Regions from separate parts of the Homo sapiens genome. Here region 2 is linked to region 1. The links come from fine-mapping of genetic effects on gene expression. A gene starts in region 1. The other region holds a variant in brackets. All regions are shown on one strand. Distances are from middle to middle. Region 1 holds the start of ARMH1 (armadillo like helical domain containing 1). Region 2 holds the start of RNU5F-1 (RNA, U5F small nuclear 1).

Region 1 (10,795 bases):
TAGCTTCTGAGATCTGCATGTTCAAGGTGGTATGGCCATGGACTTGACTTCCACACTTTCTGCTGCTCACCATGGGGGTCTGTCAGCCCTCCTGAAGCTTCAGGTCCAGCTTGGGCTGCTCTACTCTAGGAAGCCTCTCCCACCACAGGGCCCACCATGGTGGTCCAGACCCTTCAGCACTGTCTCCTGGGTGTCCGAGACAACTTCCTGAGGGTTAAAATGATGTCTATATTTCTTTGACCTCAGCCAGTGATGAGCAAAAAAGGCATGCGGTAAAACCTGGGGAGCAAAAACCCCCTCACTTCCCCTCTCTGTGATCCCCTTAAGACCTTCTGTTTACTTTAAGAGCAAAATGTTTGTCCCATGACCAGGCCCCAGACTCATTAATTCTATGAATGAATTTTTCTTTATGTTTACTGAACATGAGAGCCACACGGTGCCTTTAAGAAGGTTGCTGGCCTATGAGCAAGTCACAGAGGGGATCTAGGTGGGACTTGGCTGACCATTCTCTGGATGGGAGGAGGGGTGGCACGGCCTGGGCCTGGGATGTCAGAGCAGCTCTGGCTTGGGCCTACAGTGCTGCCAAGTGATTCCATTCAGCTCACTTGGTACATCATCCCTCCCAGGCCCTGGTGACAGTGAGTGAAGCCATCAAAAACACGACAACAGGAAAATATAGTGCTTATGGGAGCCCCAGGAGAGACCCTTCCCAAATGAAATGAAGTAAGAGAGGGTATTGAGAGACTGAGGGGATCACTGGCCTGGGAAAAAGAGAGGGAGGAGGGAAGACAGATTCTGGGTCAAACGACCGGCTTTAGCAAAGGCCTGGGCAGACGACCATCGGTGTGGGCAGCCAATAGGTACTGGCTGGTAGGATTCCCAGCAGAAGGATGTTGGGCTGCCAAGCCTGACCTACAAGGCCCAGGGCTCTGAATGACCCCAGATCTGCAGCTGCCTTCCAGCTAGCTAATGTGCCAGCATCAGCTTCTCTGTCAGCTCACAGCAGTGATGGGCTCTGTGGTTTCGATTTTTCAAATACAGGGGAAAAGTAATTTCAGGCCAGGTGCAGTGGCTCATACCTGTAATCGCAGCACTTTGGGAGGCTGCGATAGGAGGACTGCTTGAGCCCAGAAGTTTCAAACCAGTCTGGGCAATACAGTAAGACTCTGTCTCCATATAAGAAAATGAAAATTTTTTAAACTGAAAAAAAAAAGTGTTTTTAAAGGCTGGGCACAGTGGCTCACGCCTGTAATCCCAGCACTTTGGGAGGCTGAGGCGGGTGGATCACCTGAGGTCAGGAGTTCAAGACCAGCCTAACCAATATGGTGAAACCTTGTCTCTACTAAAACTACAAAAATTAGCCAGGCATGGTGGCGGGTGCCTGTAGTCCCAGCTACTTGGGAGGCTGAAACAGGAGAATTGCTTGAAGCCAGGAGGCGGAGGTTGCAGTGAACTGAGATCGTGCCACTGCACTCCAGCCTGGGCGACAGAGTTAGACTCCACCTCAAAAAAAAAAGTTTTTAAAAAGTAATTTCAGAAACTAAATATGAATGTCCTATACACTTCTCCACCATTAAACAGTAATTGCAAAAGACAGACAATCTCTGGGGCTCCAAAAGACTGTCACTCTATCAGGCCATGTTGGCCTGGAGGGAAGCTCTGCAGATAGGAAGCAAATGGATTCAGGGGACCACAGCGTCGTGATCTCCTTCTGAGGGGTTTGACAACCTCTAGCTCTCCTCTGGAGCATGGACTGTGAGAGGGAAGGGCAATGAATTAAAGCCAGTCAGGAGCAGCAATAAGGAGGAGAAACAACTGAAAGCCGTGGAGGTGTTTCCCTTGGAGGAAATGTGAAGGCACGAAGCTGTCCTCTTGAACAGAGGAAGAGAGATTCCTTGCTCTGTATCGTTCCCACCACAATGCTCTAGCCCTGCAGTTAGCACACCATTTTGAAACCACCTGCTTATAAATTCACTCCCCTCCCCAAAACCTCAGCTCCTTGGGCGTGTGAGTCACTTCTGAGTGGCCAACAACGATCCCACAGCCAGGACACAGCAAATACTGAACTGAGAGCGGAAATTACAGGAAGGCCTATTGTGGCTCAAGAAAGGGAAGTGCTTTCTAACAATCCCAGCTGCCTCCAACAGGCTAGAATGTTTGGGCAGAAGCATCGCCCCAGGGAAGGGTCTGCTAGCAATGGAATGCACTCATGCCAACAGAGGGAGGCAGGACAAAACAGTCTCTGAGATTTCTTCCAATTCTAAGACCCAGCCTCCTGGAGCAGCAAAGGGAGCCATGGGATCCGCCACTGCACTCCGGCCTGGGCGACAGGGGAGACTCCATCTCTTAAAAAAAAAAAAAGAAAGGGGGGCTGAGGGGGAACCACAGGGGAGCAATGCAATGGCAGCACCTGCACTGTGCCAGGGACACACATCCAAACGCTACCTCGTAACCCTCGCAATCCCACGAGGAGGTAGGCACTAGTACTCTTCCCATTTCACAGTGGAGGAATCTCAGGCTCAGGGAGGTTCAATAGCTTGCCAAAGACATATAACTTGTAAGACATGGAGCTGAAATGTGAACCAGGACCACGAGGCTGCCCTCCTGGCCGTGCAGAAGGCAGCTCCAACCCTTTGCAGCCGAAGACTCTCCAAAGGAAATAATATTAACTGACTTCATGGCTTGCTGACGCCAAAACGTGTCCAAAGTATTTTTACATCTATAAACCCAAAAGCGCTAAGCCAGCAGATCCAGTTCTAGGGAAAAACAGCTGGTCTGGGGCCATCTGTTCTGCGGGAGTCTAAGGGCTGCCCTCTCCTAGACTCCAACCAAAGAACATGAGATGCTACGGGAGGGATCTGGGAAGGCTCTCCTTAAGGAGGTAAGTTTTATGGAGAGCAGAGTATAAGATCAAACCTTTGCATTAGAAAGATCACTGTGGTAGCAGTTTAAGAGGCTGGGCTGCAGGCAGTGAGACAGGAGGCGTGAAGGCGATGCTGGACTAATGCAAGTGAGGGACACGCTGGCCTCAGGCTGATCATACTTCAAGGCCCTTCTGCCAGAATTCCCAGAGAGACCAAACTTTCCACTCTCTGGACCCCGATCTACTCACACTGTCATGGATGCGGGCCTGCTGTCAATCCTAATTTTGTGGAGAATCCTACATGTCTTTCTTTAATGTAAGGAGAGAAACAATGCTGATCGTAAATGCCAATTACTGAACTCACTCCATGCCAGGCCCTTTACACAATCTCCAGATGGCCCCAACAGCCCTATGAGGAAGGTTACTATCCTTATCCCGGTTTTGCAGAGGAGGAAACTGAAGTTCAGAGAAGGTAGCTTACCAAAGGTAATCCAGCTCCTAAAGGAAGGAGTCAGGATTTCAGTCGAGTTCTACCCGACGGCAGAGACTGCACTGTTAACCACTGCCGAGAAGAGTGGAGAGGGACGGCTAAGGGTTCTGAGTCCCGGGCTTCTGCGAGGATCGGTGACCCCGCGAGCCTCCCCCTCCACGCCTTCGGGAAAATAATAAGTGATAGGCTAGATGTGGGAAGCCCAATCCCAAACAAAGGAATCAGGAGGGATCCAGCTTTCGGCAGCCTTCAGCTATGAGAAGTGATTAAAGGGCATGGACCTGAGCACCCCGGACAGGAAAGACAGAAAAAGAGGTCCCAAGCGAGCAGCTGACTCGGGCAGAGGCGGGGCTCGCCAGGGAGGAACACTCTGGGGCGGGACTTACGAGGGGCGGGGCTCTCTGAGCCTCTCTAAGTCTAGGACCTGCCAGACCCTATGAGGGGGCGGCCCGAGGGAGGGCGGGGCCGCATGAGGGGCGGGGCTACAGCTGCGCTCGCAACCCACAGGTTCATGAGGTCACCTCCCCGCGCCTGGACCCAACCCTCATTCCATACTCTGGCTCCAGCAGGGCTGATCCGGGATCTCGATGGTGTAGTCCAGCTCTGCCGAGGCCATGGTGAAGGCGCCGGCCCAGAGCACGGGTCTCCAGCCGGAACTCCCGCTTGCGCACCCGTGCCTCACCCGGGCGCCTCCTGGGCGCCGCCCAATCACCACACACCTCCCCCAACACGGCCCAATCCCTGCGCCGCGCTCTGTGACCTCCCGCCTTAGCAACCACCGAGTCTCTTCCAGAGCCTCTCGCCTCACCCCACTAGCTCGGCCCTAGCAACCATGCCCCGCCCCTATTACTGACCCGCAGCCATTGGCTAATTCGCTTGATCTGGATCAGGTATTGGTCAGCCGGGGCGCCGGTCAGGAAGAGTCCCCACCCTCTCATGTAGGTGAGAGGCGGCTGAAGAGTTGCTGTATTCTGGGAATGGGCAGGGTCACTCGTCCGAACAGAGTCCTATCCTACGCGGCGGAAGAGTGTGCCCTTTGACTTGCATCGTCTACCTACCTCTGCCATCCTCTACCAGCCGCAACTGCGAGGGCTGGAGGTATAAAACCGTACAAAACGGCCTAGGGGGCGCGTGCCGACCCAACCTCCACCCAGTGGGGTTGAGGCATATTCTGGATGGATGGATGGATGGATGGATGGATGGGTGGATGGGAAGCAGTCTTCAGTTGATGACTTTAGAGAATGCCCTGTTGATAGGGCCCACCGAGGAGCTGGGAGTGCAACTTTCTTGCATTTATCTATATTTACATACTATGTGCCAGCATATTTACATACTATGTGCCAGAGACTGGGTGGGCTAAATAAGGTTCCTTAGGCCCTAGTGAGAATCAAGCTTTTGGCCCTCCCTCTCCCATGTCTTAACGGGAGAGGGAGAGAAACCATGCATGAAGCAACTCTGATTCTGCGTGTGAGATAAATACTACAGAAGAGTAAGGATTTGAGGAGCTCAGAATCAGAGAAGGGGCATTTATGGCAGTGGGGTTGGCTCTTGAGCTGGGCCTTGAAAGACTTTTAGAGATAGGGAGGGGGAAAGACTCTTTGCATGCCAGGCGCGGTGGCTCAAACTCGTAATCCCAGCACTTTGGAAGGCCAAGACGGGAGAATGGCTTGAAGGAGTTCAAGACCAGCCTGGGCAACATAGTGAGACCTTCATCTCTACAAAATTAAAATTTTAAAAATTAGCCAGGCATGGTAGCGCATGCCTGAAGTCCCAGCTACTTGGAAAGCTGAGGTGGGAGGATCACTTGAGTCAGGAGGTCAAAGCTGCAGTAAGCCATGATTGTGCCACTGCACTCCAGCCTGGGTGACAGAGTGAGACCCTGTCTCAAAAAACAAAACAAAGAGCCCAGTGTGGTGTCTCACCCCTGTAATCCCAGCACTTTGGGAGGCTGAGGCGGGCGTATCACTTCAGGTCAGGAGTTCGAGACCAGCCTGGCCAACATGGCGAAACCCCATCTCTACTAAAAATACAAAAATTAGCCGGGCATGGTGGTGCACACCTGTAATCCCAGCTACTTGGGAGGCTGAGGCAGGAGAATGGCTTGAACCTGGGAGGTAGAGGTGGCAGTGAGCCGAGATTGCTCCACTGCACTCCAGCCTGGGTGACAGAGCGCGACTCTGTCTCAAAAAAAAAGAAACATTAGTGCAGGAACTGGATTGAGGATTGGGAGAAGGAGGGAGACCAGTTAGGAGGTTGTTTCAGTAGTGGGGAAGGATTATGGTGGCACAAAGCATGGAGTGGCAGCTGAAATGGAAAGGGCAGGATGAATTCCTTAGACACTTATAGCTAGAAAAAAATGGACTTGGTTACTAATTGGGTGTGGGGGAAGTAAGGGAAATGAAGGATGACTTCTAGATTCCTGGTTTGGGCAAACAGGAAGGAGAGGAAGCAGGGGTTTTTAGGAGAGGGTCAGTTCTGGGCACGGTGAGCTTGGGGTGCCAATGGAACATCCAAGTGGAGGTATCCAGAAGGCCATTGGATATGCCTAACTGGAGTTCGCCAGATAAGTCTAACTGGAAGTTGCAGTGTGGGAGTCTATGGGGCCTTATAGATGCCAGCCACACCAATAGATTTGTTGAGCTTGCCCAGGGAGTAAGTGTAGAGTCAGAAGAGACCTAGGACAGAGCCCTGAGAAACACCCAAGTTTGAGGGTCTGGCAAAGGAGGACGAACCTGCAAAGGTAATCAAGATGAAGTGTCCAAAATGGTAAGAAGATCAGTAGTAGTATGTGGTGTTTCAGAAGCCAAGGAAGGAAAGTGTTGAAGGCTTATGACTAATCAAGTAAAATAAGGCCTGAAAGAATCCACTGGATTTAGAAACAAGGAAGTTGTTGGTGACCTTTACAAGTGCAGTTTCAGTGGAGTGATGGGAGCAGAGGTCAAATTACAGTGGTTTGAGAAGCAGATGGGATTGAGGAAGTGAAGATTCATGTAAGATACATTTTCAGAAAGCTTGGCTATTTAGGAGAAGAAAAAAGAAGGCAATATCCAGCAGGAAACACAGGTTTTTATTCGGATGGAAGAAATGTTGATGTGGATCCAGCAAAGGGGAAAAAGATAAAACTATAAGGGAAAGAAGATAACTGAGAATGGTGCCCTTGAAAAAAAGACTTCACCAAAGTGTTGGTGAAGAAATTCACTTAGAAGGGTGGAGGAACATTTGTTTTGTGGCAGAAGGGAAGCATTACGTTGAGGTTAATTGGTGGGTTTGGTGACAGGAAGCTGAGGGAATTCTTCGATGGTTTCCATTTTCTCTGTCAAATAAGAACATTATATCAGCCAGTGAGAGTGGGATTGGAGATGGTGTGCGAGATTGAAAAGAGCAGAGAAAGATTAAAATAGCAGCACTGGAGAGTGGCAGTGAGATGACTAAGGTAGCAAACAGATTTCTGGGCAGTTATCATGGCCCTGTCGAGGTTAGTGACCATTAATTTTCGGAAGCAGCAGTCTGCAAGGTTGTGTAATATGCATTTTTCCCTCAACAACATTCAGCCACCTAGTGGTGGGTACACAGAGGTTAGTTTAATTGATCTAGGTTTGGGTTTTACCAGGCGGATACAATGGAAGGACAAAGGACAAGGAAGTTGAAGATTGTGGCAAAACAGTGATTGAAATGAAGGGCCTTAGTATCTAAACTGGATAGGAGAGTGAAAAAAAATGTATGGACTAGAGGTCCCAGTGAAGTCAGAGAATCCACATCTGAGATCATTGAATGAGGGAGTTGTGATCAGAAAGTGGAAGAATGAAGTTTGAGTAGTTTCCGGTGATGACAAGGTCCACTGTGTGGCCGTGGGAGTCAGTGACCAAAGTGGAGTACAGGAGACAGTCAGGATGCTGATGTGGCCACTGAACTCCCCCTGGATGATAGAAAGACTTGAGGGGAGGGAAGGGAAGAGGATGCCCGTGAGCTAGGTACCAGTCTCTGATGGGCAGAGCAGGTTTTTCTGGAGTCTCTAGGTGACAGCATGAGGAGGGGCAAAGGCTGAGACAGCTAAATGGTATGACCCTTGAAGTAGTAAGGGCTTTTACAAGAAGGAGGTGGAATAAGGAACTGAGTTGGGCTTTGGCAAGGAGACATGAGGCCCCCTCCTAAACCTGAAATCCTGGGGGTGTAAGAATCTAAACAGATTCTACCAGGAGGGCCATGCAGAAGGGGAGCCCTGGGGTAGAGCCAGCTTTGGATGCAGGCTGGAGGTGGGCAGGTGACTGGAGAGGCTGAGGATGGAGGAGACTTAGCTGATTGGGAAGAAGGGTTTTCAAGAGCAGAGTAAAAAGGTTGGGAAGGGAAGGAAGGCTGGGAAATGGGTCGAGGAAGATGAAGCATAGAGCAGTGAAGGGGCAAGGAGAGTGTGGTTGACCTCGCCAGTTACATGTTGTGGAGAGAGGATGAGGGCAGGTCTGTGGAGCAGTGTTGGAGGCAGAAGTGAGTCTGGGGAGAAGAAGAGTGGGGGCTGTGGGTAGGAATGAGGGCAAGTGGGGAGAAGATGAAGGCAGAGGATTTCATAGGAAGGAGATGGGGGAAAGGAGTTCTTGTGGGGAGAGGATGGAGAAAATGGACAGATGTGAGGAAAAGGTGGGGGCAGATGGAGTCTACCAGGAAGTGATGAGTAGCAGGGGTAGGGGTATCTGCCAGGGTATGACTGGGGAGCAGAAGAGGGTCCATGAGAAGGAAGTGACAAATTGGAGTGCATATGCCCCTGGGAGAGAAATAAGGACACCTTGTTTGGAAGTTTGAGGAGATAATGTTTCTCTCTCCCTATCTCTGAATGGAGAACTGAGAGTTAGGAGTCAGGGACGGGAGCCCAAGGAGAAGGCCTGTCTCATTCTACATGTGAAACCTACAGGAATAGGAGGCAGTGACTTGCTTGTTGTCTCCGAGGCCATGTGGGGACAGTGAGCCAGGCTGGCAACCCATGCCTTGGAGGCCTCTTTGCTTTCAGAAGGTGTCTTTTGATTTGCCGGGGGGGTGGGGAAGCCCTCTGGGAAATTTTATTTAGAAACAAGACCTATTGACCTCTTGATTTTTAATACCTCCCCTTCGCTTGTTGCCAAGGACCTTTGGCTTAGCATGAGAGCTGAGGCTTTTGAGATTGTGTGATTTTAGTTTCCCTGCATGAAGAAGAACCATTTGGCCACTATAGAAATGATTTATGGATGAGTCCAGATTTATTAATCACCTCTGAAGATGGAGAGGAAATTAAAAACAAAGAGTCCACTCTGGGCTGAAGACAAAGTAGGTCTGTTATCCTTGCAGAAGACTTTGCCAAGGTTAGAAGGCCACAAACAAACCAATTTGGACCGAGGTTCTTAATCTGGATTTTTAATTTCGCGTGCTTGATTTTTTGCACCGTTTTCTCTCTGAGGTAAAATAATGACTATTTTAATTGGCTGCCACTTACAGAGAGATCCCAATAAGCATGATGGCATACATATATTTTTCTCTGGCATTCCATGTGTGCTCCAGTTCTTATGATCAAGCTGGTGAAGCTGACTTTTACTGCATGCTGCATGCCATGATCAGTTGACTATAAATTAAATCTTCTTTTCCAAAAGCCATTTTCCATTAGTGCTAATTTGTTTGCTTCTCATTTCCACTGATCATTAGAGTCTCTGGTTGTGAGCACCAAATTGGAAATAATTTCTGTGACATTTCAAAAAAAATTTCTCCCCTTCTTGAATGCCATTTGGCTGCAGCTAAATAACATTATGGTTTACAGAAGAACAGTTCACTCCAATTACAATTTAACTGACCGTTCATGGCACTGAATCCCTGTCCTTAGTGTCCAAAGATGACACCGCTGCTGACATTGCTGTTTCCTGTCATAGCTGTAAAACACCTCGTAGACTTTGCACTGGCCTTCTTGGATGGAGATTCTGCCACTCCGCACATGGCAGCTTTGGGAAGTTGGTAGTTTTATGGACCTGCATATCATGGACATTCAGATATAATCATCTCAACAGGAGCTGGGTGATTTCTTCACACATTCACTCAGCGAGCATTTATTCAACATCTGTTTTGTGCCAGGCATTATGCCAGGTCCTAGGGACACAGAGACAGGGAAGACCAACCCCTGCCCTTGAGGAACTCACACTCTAGTGGGAAGGATGGGTAAGTTTTAAAGCATATTAGAGGAAGAGGTGGCATGGATGGGACCAGAGCTGCAAACCCCTAGTTGTCCCAGGGAGTTTGCCAAAGGGCAAAAAGGAACCTGGCCATTCCTGATGGCAGAGCAACACTGAGATGCAGAGGGCCCTGGAAGGGCCTGGGGAGTTGAGAGTGCAAGGTTGTTGTAATGTGGAAGTGACTAGAGATGAAGTTAGATTGGGGCCAAGTTTGTTTGTTTGTTTGTTTGTTTGTTTGTTGTTTTGAGACACTCTGTCACCCAGGCTGGAGTTCAGTGGCACGGTCTTGGCTCACTGCAGCCTCAGCCTCCCAGGTTCAAGTGATTCTCCCGCCTCAGCCTCCCGAGTAGCTGGGACTACAGGCGCGTGCCACCACACCCAGCTAATTTTTGTATTTTTAGTAGAGACGGGATTTCACTATGTTGGCCAGGCTAGTCTCGAACTCCTGACCTCATGATCCACCGCTTCAGCTTCCCAAAGTGCTGGGATTATTGGCGTAAGCCACTGCGCCCAGCTGGGGCCAAGTTTTGAAGGGCCTTGAGTGCCATATTGGGTTTAGACTTTATCCAGTAGGCCACAGTGAGCTAATGGAGAAATCTGGGGGTGAAGCAAGTAGGAAGGGTAGAAGCTTACGGAAAAAGTAGTTAGGAGATGGCTTTGTTTGTATATTTATTTGGGTTGGTGGGGATTGAGCAAGTGTTTAAGAGGAGTCAGGGAAGATGGGAAGATTGAAGACAGGAGTAGAACCTAGTGCCCACGGAGAGGGTGGGTGCTGATACGATGATCGTAAGAGGAGAGGGTTGCGCTTGATGGCCCCTATATTCTCTGTGAAGTTGGAAGCAAAGTTATCCAGGCATCCTCCTTGATTCCTCCCCGTCTTTTATCTTCCACAGCCAGTCAGTCACCAGGCCCTGTTTCTTCAAATGGTGTGACATTTCTACTTTTCTCCAACCCTAATATCATCAGCGTCTTTGTCAAGGCCGTAGGAATGACTTCCTAACTGGTGCCCCCACCTCCAATTTGCCCCCTTCCGATCCCCTTTTTTTTTTTTTTTTGAGACGGAGTCTCGCTCTGTCACCCAGGCTGGAGTGTAGTGGCGTGATCTCGGCTCACTGCAAGCTCCACCTCCCGGGTTCACGCCATTCTCCTGCCTCAGCCTCCCGAGTAGCTGGGACTGCAGGCGTCCACCACCATGCCCGGCTAACTTTTTGTATTTTTTAGTAGAGAGGGGGTTTCACCGTGTTAGCCAGGATGGTCTCG
Region 2 (10,795 bases), 45 kb after region 1:
GTGCTGTTAGCACCCTGGAAATGGCTGCATGGAATATCCACAGTTCCCAGGTACAATGCCATTTCTATGGCTCCTTCTGCCAAAGGAATACTAAGCCTGCTGCTACAGCCCTGTCTCTTGTTCATTGTGGTTTCCTGGGCAAGTCATTTGTTCTTGGTTTCTTCGTCTATTCAATGAGATGATCAGACCAGTGATCACTGAGGTTTCCTCTAATGCTGATAGGCTGTGGATTCCAAAGTTCCTCTTCGGATTGGAGCAATGAATTTGTCTCCTGCACCATTAAAGAGTTTCCATGGAGTGTGAGTGGCTAGGACCTCACATCTGTTTTTTGTTTTTTTGAGATGGAGTCTCACTCTGTCACCCAGGCTGGAGTGCAGTGGCACAATCTCAGCTCAATGCAACCTCTGCCTCCCGGGTTCAAGCAATTTTCCTACCTCAGCCTCCTGAGTAGCTGGGATTACAGGCGCCCACCATCACACCTGGCTAATTTTTGTATTTTTAGTAAAGACAGGGTTTCACAATGTTGGCCAGGCTGGTCTTCAACTCCTGGCCTCAAGTGATCATCTGCTCGCTTCAGCCTCCCAAAGTGCTGGGATTACAGGCGTGAGCCACTGCACCCAGCCACATCTGTTTCATTTACTGCTGTTTCATCAGCACCAGCACTGCACCTAGCACGTGCTCAATCCCTGTTTGTCAAATGCATGAGCATGGGCCCCACAGAGCATCCTCTCAGCTTCATGGGGCCTGAACTCTCAAACATTCAAACCCTCCTGATGATACCTCCTCCTTGAATACTCTCATCCTCCTTCCCAAACCCATACTCTCCTGGCTTCCTCCTATGGCTCTAGAAACTGCTTCTCGGTCTTTTATACATTCCCATTCCTCTACCAGTCTCCTAGGTGTCAATTTTTTTTTTTCAGCATTCAACTCCAGGTCTTCTTCTCCTTCTTTGCTGTCTATGGCACCTCGTCCGCTCCCACAACTTTAATTACCACGACTTTATGTACCACCTACCACCTTGATGACAGAAACAATAGTCGCTAATCTTTATAGAGTGTTAACTCTATGCTGGATACTGCCCTTGATCTTTACTCATTTACCCCTCACAGCAAGCCAAGGAGGTGGGCACTATTATTTTCCCCATTTTATGGATGGAGGACAGAGTAGTGGAGTGACCTCTCTATAGCTCTAGACCTGTGTGTCCATTTGCCTTCTGAACACCTCCCCTCAGATGTCACCAGTGGACTTCTGATATTCCAGTTCCAAAGCTTTTCTTCTCCAAGGTCCCAATCTCAGTGGAAAGTACCCAGCTGCCCAGGCTAGAAATATTGGTAATTGTCTTGTCTTTTTGCTTCCCACCTTCAACCAACTTCTAACAAGACCAGTCAATTCTAACTCTTCAATATGCAGATGCGTTCCCTCTTCCCCATTCTGTCTCCACTGCTGTAATTCAGGTCTTCATACTGCTCACCTGCACTGGCCTCTACACCAATCTTCATCTGTCCAGTATGGCGCCCACACACAGTTCATTTTCCTAGTCCACCACCAGAGTGGAGGCAGTAGACTTAGTGGTGAAGAATATGGGATTTGGAATCCGAACTATTCTTTTTTCTTTTTTTTTTTTTTTTTGAGACGGAGTCTCACTCTGTAACCTAGGCTGGAGTGCAGTGGCGCGATCTCGGCTCATTGCAACCTCTGCTGCACAGGTAAAAGATATTCTCCTGCCTCAGCCTCCCAAGTAGCTGAGATTACAGGCACCTGCCACTGCGCCCAGCTAATTTTTGTAGTTTTAGTAGAGACGGGGTTTCACCATCTTGGCCAGGCTGGTCGTGAACTCCTGACCTCGTGATCCAACCGCCTTGACCTCCCAAAGTGCTGGGATTACAGGTGTGAGCCACCGCGCCCGGCCTGAAATCAGAACTATTCTTATTAGCTATCTGATCCTGAGCGAGCTACTCAACTTTTTTGAGCCTTCCTTTTCTCTGAAATGAAATGAGAAAAATGCCTGCTGTATCGGGTTGTTGGCACATGCATAGCCCTGCAGAAGCTGGGGCTGGCCTGCCTCCACAGGCTTAGCTCTGATGCATGACCCAGCATCCCTGTTTCCCAGCCAGATCTCCCTTGCCTGGCCACAAATGTGACATGGCACTATCCAACATGGCACTTGCCACATTCTACATTCCAGCCCCTCCCTTCTCCCTATGGTTTTGCCAATTCACGCATCACCGTCTCCAAGGAATCCTTCTCCTGATTCTCCATCCCCTATCATCTCCACTCCATCAACCAACCTGGCTTCCTTTGTGTTCCCATGGCCCTGATAACACTGCCTCATAAATGCCAGTTTCCCTATTGGTATCCCCCACTCAGCTGTGATGTCCCTAAGGCCAGTGATTAGATCTTAGTCCTCTTCATAGCCCTAGCCCAGAGGCCTGGCACAGACAAGATGCTCAATGAGAATTTTGTTAAATAAATGAATGAATCAATGAATAAATCAGTGATTGCTCAGCTTTAGGACATTTGGGTGTTATCAGCACCACAGGCTTTAGGCAAAGCTGCCAAAGATAGTCTTTTGTTGTCCTTTGCTTTCTGAAGGAATTGCCCTTCCTAGTAACTAGCACGATATATAAAGAGTTGTAACTGGCTGTGGTTCCTGTGAAGACATTTGGGCAGAGACCAGTACTTTCACTTTGGGTATAAACAGTGACAGCTGTGAATTTTAAAACTCAGTCAGAAATGATTCAGTGAATAAATCTTCATTTTTCTAAGTAGCTCCAAGTGTTACAAATACATAATTAGCAAAAGATTAAGCATTTAGGTAAAGTGAATAGTCAGAACTAGACATTTGTCTCCTGGAGTATTTGGTTCTACATGGGCAGAAAATGCTATTTGTGGTCAAGAAATTTTCATAAAAATATCTTCACCTGTTCGTTTCTACCCTGAGTGTCCACCAAGTCATGTCTTGCTGCAGGAAGAGCTCTTGGGCACAGGCAGACATTTGCCCAGGATGTCCTGGCATTACGCACTGCCAGCTTGTGCCTGGGAAGAGCCCAGCTACTAATGAGGGACGTGCTGCAGGCGACAAAGCCAAGTGTCATCAGATGCATGAGGGGCCAGACCACTTGGCTCCAAAAAAATGAGCTGCACCAATTCAAGAAGAGGGAAGAAACCAAATGGTAGAACAAGTGAGAAATACTTTGGGGTTTCAGGCAGCAGCCGGTGCAGGCTACGGCTGCCAAGCAGCCAGAGATGTCCGGTCTGCCATTTTGTCCAGATCAGAGAGTGTTTGGGGGAAGCCAGGGAAGCTCAAGTGCTTTGCCCCTTCCCGGGGCTGGTCCCTTTCCCTCCACAATGTTGCTGGGCCTTTGATTCCAAAATAGGACCACATCTGGGCAACCAGAGGCTGCAGAGGGTGGGCAGATGGGATTGCGAGGGCTACCTTAGAAGACTTAGAAGAAAGAGGCAGCCCAGCAGCAGTGGCTGGTTGGTCATAAGAAGCGTTTCTGGGCCGGGCATGGTGGCCCATGCTTGTAATCCCAGCACTTTGGGAGGCCGAGGCAGGCGGATCACCTGAAGTCGGGAGTTCAAGACCAGCCTGACCACCATGGAGAAACCCGTCTCTACTGAAAATACAAAAAATTAGCTGGCCAGTGTGGTGCATGCCTGTAATCCCAGCTACTTGGGAGGCTGAGATAGGAGAATCACTTGAACCTATGAGTCAGAGGTTGCAGTGAGCTAAGATCGCACCATAGTACTCCAGCCTGGGCAACAAGAGTGAAACTGTCTCGGAAAAAAAAAAAAAAAAAAAAAAGGCATTTCTGAATGAAGCCACTATTTCTAAATCAGGAAGGTCCTCAGAGGAAAGGGTCTGCCCCACAAGGTCTGTCCCCCAAAGGGTGAATAAGTACTGGAAGGGGTAGCACAGGATGTCTTTGAAGATCTTCCACCTCCAGGTGATTTTTTAATTCTGTGATTGGGAAAACCAGGATGAGACAAAACTAGCTTTTATAGGGCTTCAGGACCAGGCCCCCTCTAGTGTGCCTCAAGGCTCTGGAGCCTGAGGATGATGGGCAAGAGGCAGAGGAGAGCAGGATCTGGCACAAGGGCAATTTCGAGGAGGCAGGCTGGTTCTCTACTAGTAGCCTTTCCATGCCTTTCCTTAGATTGACACACCAGCCAAAACTCATTCTCTTCTTCCTGCCGAAGGGCACTCTGAGCCCTGGAGTGGAGAAGTCAGCTCCCCATCCCTCCGCCGGTGTTTTCAGCACCCAGGAGAGCTGAGCATGCAGCCTGCAGCACACAGGATGTGGCTGCTCCCTCTGCCTTCCCAGACCACTGCTCTTTTGGAAATCATCAATGATAGTTTTCTGACAAAGTTAGAAATCGCCAGCATGTGTTCCTTTTTAGGCAGCATATGTCTGTTTGGAGTTAAACAAGTAAAGTTTGCAGGAGCTGAAGCAGAGACCTGTTCTGTGTGCTCTGTAAATCCACGCAGTCCACATCTCTGACCATCTCACCAGGTGCCCTGTGTCTCCCACTGTGAGAAGGACCACACTCTTCCCCTTTCTGTTGTGCCTGGGTTGTATGATATGAGCATCCATAGAGTGGTGCCCAGTTCTGGGGTGGCCAAGAAGTATAAGGTCCTGGCTTCAAAGCACTCTCAAAGTTGGCCATGGGGCCAGGTGCAGTGGCTCACGCCTGTAATCCCAACACTTTGGGAGGCCAAGGTGGGTGGATCACCTGAGGACAGGAGTTAGAGACCAGCCTGGCCAACATGGTGAAACCCCGTCTCTACTAAAAATACAAAAAAATTAGGCAGGTGTGGTGGCGGGCGCCTATAATCCTAGCTACTTGGGAGGCTGAGGCAGGAGAATTGCTTGAATCCATGAGGCAGAGGTTGCAGTGAGCCAAGATCGTGCCATTGCACTCCAGCCTGGGCAACAAGAGCAAAACTCTGTCTCAAAAAAAAAAAAAAAAAAAAAAAGTTGGCCATGGGGTATACGGGGAGACAGCTGCCACAGTTCTGGCTCTCCAGCCTGTCCAAGATTCAAGCTAGGAAAGTTCTGTAGCTGTGTGAATGAGGACCACAGTGGCCACTGCAGAGCCTCCTCTGGGGTCATCCACCACCAGGCTGGTGGTTTCTAAGCGTGGTCCTAGGCTGCCATGACCCAAGCCTCGCCTGTTGGAATGCAGAATCCAATGAGGTCTTTTCAACAAGATGTATGGAGCATGCATTGTGTACATGGAATGGTTTCAGGCTCTAGGTAAACAGAAGTGAGATGTGTCAGATATGTTCATTGGAGTTCACACACTAGTGAGGAGACCATTTAGTGGATAGTACTAGAATTCTATAGCAAGAATTCTATACGGTGCTACGGGTTCAGAGACATAGGACATCTACTCCTGAGTGAAGAGTGAAGGCAGAGGAGAGCAGGCCAGGGGCAGCTTCCTGAAAGTTGATTTCTCAGCTGAGCCTAGAAGAATGAGTAGCAATAGCCAGATAAAGAAGACTTCTCAGGCCGGGCGTGGTGGCTCACACCTGTAATCCCAGCACTTTCGGAGGCCAAGGCAGGTGGATCACTTGAGGTCAGGAGTTCAAGACCAGCCTGGCCAACATAGTGAAACCCTGTCTCTACTAAAAAATACAAAAATTAGCCAGGCGTGGTGGTGCGCACCTGTAATCCCAGCTACTCGGGAGGCTGAGGCAGGAGAATCCCTTGAACCCAGGAGGTGGAAGCTGCAGTGAGCCGAGATCGTACCACTGTACTCCAGCCTGGGTGACAGAGTGAAACTCCATCTCAAAACAAAACAAAACAAAAAAAGGGCAAAAGAAAGAGAAGGCACTGAGATTCTGCTCTCGGTGGGAAGTCTGATACCTCTAGCATACATACTTTAAGTTGGACCCCAGAAGACAGTACCCTCAAGGTCAAGGTGGGCCAAAAGTAAGCCGGCCCTCAGGTGGTCTTGTATGGATTATATAACTACCAGGTGGTCCAGAGAACCTCAAGTGTTGAATGTGGACAAAGGTAGTCCAGAATTGTTTGTGTCCCCAGGTACCTGATAAAAACAAAAGAAAACTATCTCTGGAAGAAAGTATCATCATCCTAACTCTTAAGTTTTTCCTACACTTAATTTTTCAAATATGAGACCAGTCCAAAGTATAAGATAATCATGCACACAAAGTCATCACTATAAATTGGAACTAGCACACTAGAAAGACTCACAAGACTTCAGCCAAATTATTAGATACAGACTGTCAAAAACTAGGTTTTCTTTTAAAAAAAAAAATCTTATAAACATTTAGCTTCCTAAATGTTTACAAGAAGCTAAAAAAACATGACAGTAGGCCGGGCACTACAAAAAGTACACAAAATTAGACAGGCTTATGAGGCTGAGGTGGGAGGATTGCTTGAGCATGGGAGATGGAGGTTGTAGTGAGCCGCGACCACACCACTCCGCTACAACCTGGGTGACATTTGTGGAGCTACCCCAACCTCCCAAAGCATGAAACACCCCACCCACACGTCTCTCTTTAGTAACAGAACATTCAGCCTTGCCTAGGCAAGACTTCAAAAAATTTAACCATAAACTCATAGTTGTTTTTCTCCACGGAAATCTTTAGTAAAAGGCGAAAGATTTATTCGTTATGAAGAGAAACCAGAGATCTGC[C/T]TGTTAGCCTTTTGCCTGGCTTCCCAGCTATTGACTGGTCTCCCTCTACTTACGGTGCCTTTGGACCTGCAGACAGAAGCTTTTCTTCCACTGTAGAAAAGTGTCCTAAACATGTTCTCACTGGGTAAAATCTCCTGACAAAGAAAAAAAGTTTAAATATTATTATTCAAACAGATAACCCTGGTAATAATTCTCGTATCTACAATGCATTCTGGGATGCAAATGAGCTGAGCGCCGGAACAAGAGTTCCTCTAAACCCTCTCTCTCTTACCAGTAAATGGAGAGAGGCACTTGACTACTGAGCTGGGGAGAGCACATGGCCAAGTCCTGTCTTCCATGTAGCCACATGTGTTCAGAGTAGCAGTGCCCGGTGCACAGTGACTCACACCTGTAATCCCTGCACTTAAGGAGGCAGAGGTAGGAGGATCGCTTGAGCCCAGGAGTTCAAGACCAGCCTGGACGACAGAGTAAGACCTTGTCTCAGAAAAAAAATAAAATTTAAATTTAAAAAAAAGTCCAGGCGTGGTGGCTCATGCCTGTAATCCCAGCACTTTGGGAGGCCGAGGCAGGAGTTCTCGGTCACTTTGGGAGCACTTTGGGAGGCCTGAGCACTTTGGGAGGCCTGAGGTCAGGAGTTCAAGACCAGCCTTGCCAACATGGTGAAACCCTGTCTCTACTAAATACAAAAATCAGCCGGGCGTGGTGGCAGACGCCTGTAATCCCAGCTTCCCAGGAGGCTGAGGCAGGAGTATCGCTTGAACCCGGGAGGCAGAGGTTGCAGTGAGCGATTGCACTCCAGCCTGAGTGATGACAGTGAAACTCCGTCTCAAAAAAACAAACAAACAAAAATACTAGCATTTACTGGCTGGGCCCACCGGGCCCAGTGGCTCATGCCTGCTATCCCAGCACTTTGGGAGGCCGAGGCGCGTGGATCACGAGGTCAGAAGTTCAAGACCAGCCTGGCCAAGATGGTGAAACCCCATCTCTACTAAAAATACAAAAAAAAAAAAAAAAAAAAATTAGCCGGGTGTGGTGGCGGGCGCCTGTAATCCCAGCCTACTCGGGAGGCTGAGGCAGGAGAATTGCTTGAACCCAGGAGGCGGAGGTTGCAGTGAGCCGAGATCGCGCCACTGCACTCCAGCCTGGGCGACAGAGTGAGGCTCTGTCTCAAAAAAAAAAAAAAGGTAGCATTTATGCTGGTGTGCCATCATCTTAGCATCTCCTTCTCCTCCTGCCCCCTCTAGCTCTGTGGTTCCTTTCTCTTCTTTACAAAAACATTCAATCCTTGCCGATTTTCTCTTGTGCTCCCACAGCCCAATCACTGACTCCTTCCACAGCACCTGTCACCATATCATCGCTGCCTGTTTGTGCACGCTTAAGGAGGGTTGGTCGAATGAATGAATTCAGTCTGTATCCTCAACACCCAATGCCGCGCCTGGCACCATAGGCGTTCACATGCAGCCGTGCCGAAAGACTGAGTGAATGCTGGACTGAATGAATGACTGCCTGTAAAATATCTACAGGAAAGCCCTGCAGGAAATGCCCTCCATAAATTCTAGTCCCCTTCTCCTTCCTAACCAAATCCTCCCCTCCTTCTGCTTCCATCACTTCCTAGCTGTGTAACTTAGGCAAAGTGGTTTACCTCTCTGTGTCTAATTTCGGCAAAGGTAAAATGGGGAAGTGAACCTCATCTGGTTCTGGTGAGCTTCCACGGGTGCTGTATGGAAAGCCTGGCACCCTGCCTGGTGGAGAGGGCTCGATGATGGTTAGAAGGAGAGTTTCTCTAAACTGCCGCCTACCTTCCTTCCCCTTTCTCATTTCCTGCCACAAGTCTCCCACCCACTTTCTCTGTCTCCCTCTCACCCCTTGTCTTTCTCCATCTTGTCTTCCCGTAAAGACCCAGCCCTTCCCTCCTCCATGAAACCTGGATTCCTCCAAGGCGAAGGCCCCCCTCTCTGGGGTCTCAGCCTCCAGCGCTGACATCCTAGGCCGCCTCGACAGGTGGGCTCACCATCCAACCCTTCCTCCTCCCCCTTCAGCCCCCTCCTCCTGCTCTTCAACTGAGGTTCGCCTTCCCAGCTCCCCCACGCCCTGCACAGTGCTGATCAGTAAAAGAGGAGGACACTGACGAGTGGCGACTTGGTTCACGGGGTTCTTTGCTTCCTCGGTGGCGGAGGGGCCTGGGGCCTCTCTCCAGCACCTCTGCCCTTCCGCAGCCATCGAGTTGATCAAAGACCTGGTCGGTTACGATGTGCGCCAGGCGCTGCTCAAGGGCCTCGTGGCGCTGCTGATACCGTCGGTCAAGGAGATCTCCAAACTGCAGGCCAAGATCCTCAGTGGTAAGGACCTGCTCAAATGGGGCTGCCTGGGCCACGGGAGGGCGGTCTCTTGCCTCACGGCTGCCCCCTCCTCAGACCCCTCGGTTCTCCAGCTCACCCCCAGCCTGCCGATGTTTTTGCAGCAGGCCGCGGCCGCCAAGGCCATCGGGTAAGCGGGCAGGGGTTAGTGGGTAGCTGCAGCAAGCCTGGCTTGGCGCTGCCGGCGGGCCCCGGGAGCGCTCCGTGCGCCGGGTGGGCGGGGGTGTGCGCCGGGTGAGCCCCAGGGCGTCGCCCCAGCCCGAACCCCCGGCCCAGGGTCCTGGCGCGCAACGACATGAGCATCGCCGAGGAGCTGCTGTACCTGCGCGTGGTGCGTGGCCTAATGGCCGCCATGGGCAACACGGACCACAGCAACAGCCAGCGGCTGGCCAGCCTCACGCTGGAGGTGCGCGCGGCGGCTGGTTAGGGGGCGGGAAGGGCGGCGGCACCCGCAGCCCCGTCGCCCCCGCAGTCACGCCGCCTCGCCCGCGCGGCGCAGTGCTTCGTGCAGATGTTCCCCTTGGTGGCGGAGCACGTGCGCAAGTGCATGGGGGAGGAACTCTACCAGCTCTTCCTGGTAAGTGCGCCCTTCCTGCCCCGCCGCAATGAGCAGATGGCGGCTCGGACAGTGTGATGCCCCTTCAGACAGTCCCCATCCTGGAGCGCGCCACATGCAGAGTGGACCTGGCCACCAGCTGCAGGAGGGACTGCTCTGGCGTAGGCTCCTCCACCCGCCACCTTCCTGTTCCCTTTCCTGCCCTTTCGGTCAGGCTGCCGACCCGCCCCCCACCTGCAACATCCCTCTGCCAAGCCCAACTCCAAGTCCAGACTGCCCTGGCACCCCAGCCGGGTCCCCCTTGCTCCTGTCCTCAGAGCAACGCTGAGGACTTGTACATGAAAATAGACAGCATTCAGGCGGACATCTTGGCGGCCAACACAGTCAATGTTACCAAAGGTGAGTGTGGGACGAGGGAAGCCGGGCGCAGGCGCCGCCAGCACAGCCTCACGCCCGCCTTTCCTGCCTGCAGCCCTGTGCCTCCATGGCAGCTCCTACAGCATGAACACTCTCTATGGCTCGCGCGATTCGGCTCAGATGGCCTACCTCACACACTTCGAGGAGGATGTAGAATCAAAGGAGTAACAGCCCCTGTGGCAAACCAGGAAGGCCAAGGCTGCGGGGCAGGGAAGCCTGGCAAGAGGAAGGCGCCTGGGGTCAAGCTCAGAGCCACTCCACTTGGCTCCAGGGGGGAGACGGGGATTAGGCATCCCAGAGGGGCAGAGGAAGAGCCGCTGGCTGCGAAGAGTCAATAAACAGCCTTGATACCTGTCTGTTCTTTGTGTGTGTGGAGGGGGAAGGGAGGTCAAGTGAGAGCTATGATGCTAGATTGTGGTGCCTGTGCTCCTCAAGTTAAAAAGCAGGTCCAAGTTTAGGACGGTGGCTTGCACCTGTAATCCTAGCTACTCTGCAGGCTGAAGGAAGAAGATCTCTTGAGCCCAAGAGTTGGAAGCCATCATGGACAACAAAGCAAGACCCCATCACAAAAACAGGCCGGGCACGGTGGCTCACGCCTGTAATCCTGGCAGTTTGGGAGGCTGAGGTGGGCGGATCGCCTGAGGTCAGGAGTTCGAGACCAGCCTGGCCAACAGGGTCAAACTCCGTCTCTACTAAAAAATAAATAAAAAATAAAAAATTAGCCGGGTGTGGTGGCACACACTTGTAATCCCAGCTACTTGGGAGGCTGAGGCAGGAGAATCACTTCAACCCGGGAGGT

Evidence for each region.
Region 2: its variant is fine-mapped to the expression of ARMH1 in whole blood (TOPMed, PIP 0.97).

The regions. Positions count from the first base shown.
Region 1 is chr1:44,670,423-44,681,217 of GRCh38, forward strand. ARMH1 (armadillo like helical domain containing 1) reads left to right here and starts at 4,292. Exons shown (of 12, transcript NM_001145636.2): 1 at 4,292-4,451. It overlaps TMEM53 (transmembrane protein 53), which reads right to left and starts at 4,059. Exons shown (of 3, transcript NM_024587.4): 1 at 3,909-4,059. The coding sequence starts at 3,969. SNORD145 (small nucleolar RNA, C/D box 145) reads right to left here and starts at 634; the gene lies at 535-634. RefSeq lists an enhancer at 3,503-4,004 and silencers at 3,772-3,911, 4,062-4,111, 4,182-4,231.
Region 2 is chr1:44,715,240-44,726,034 of GRCh38, forward strand. It overlaps ARMH1 (armadillo like helical domain containing 1), which reads left to right. Exons shown (of 12, transcript NM_001145636.2): 7 at 8,883-9,005; 8 at 9,081-9,153; 9 at 9,300-9,429; 10 at 9,523-9,600; 11 at 9,897-9,978; 12 at 10,052-10,352. The coding sequence ends at 10,164. It overlaps RNU5F-1 (RNA, U5F small nuclear 1), which reads right to left and starts at 6,663; the gene lies at 6,546-6,663. It overlaps LOC105378690 (a long non-coding RNA gene), which reads right to left and starts at 8,880. Exons shown (of 5, transcript XR_007066059.1): 1 at 8,796-8,880; 2 at 6,720-6,800. RefSeq lists a silencer at 8,198-8,492. The variant C/T (reference allele first, on the strand shown) is at 6,667.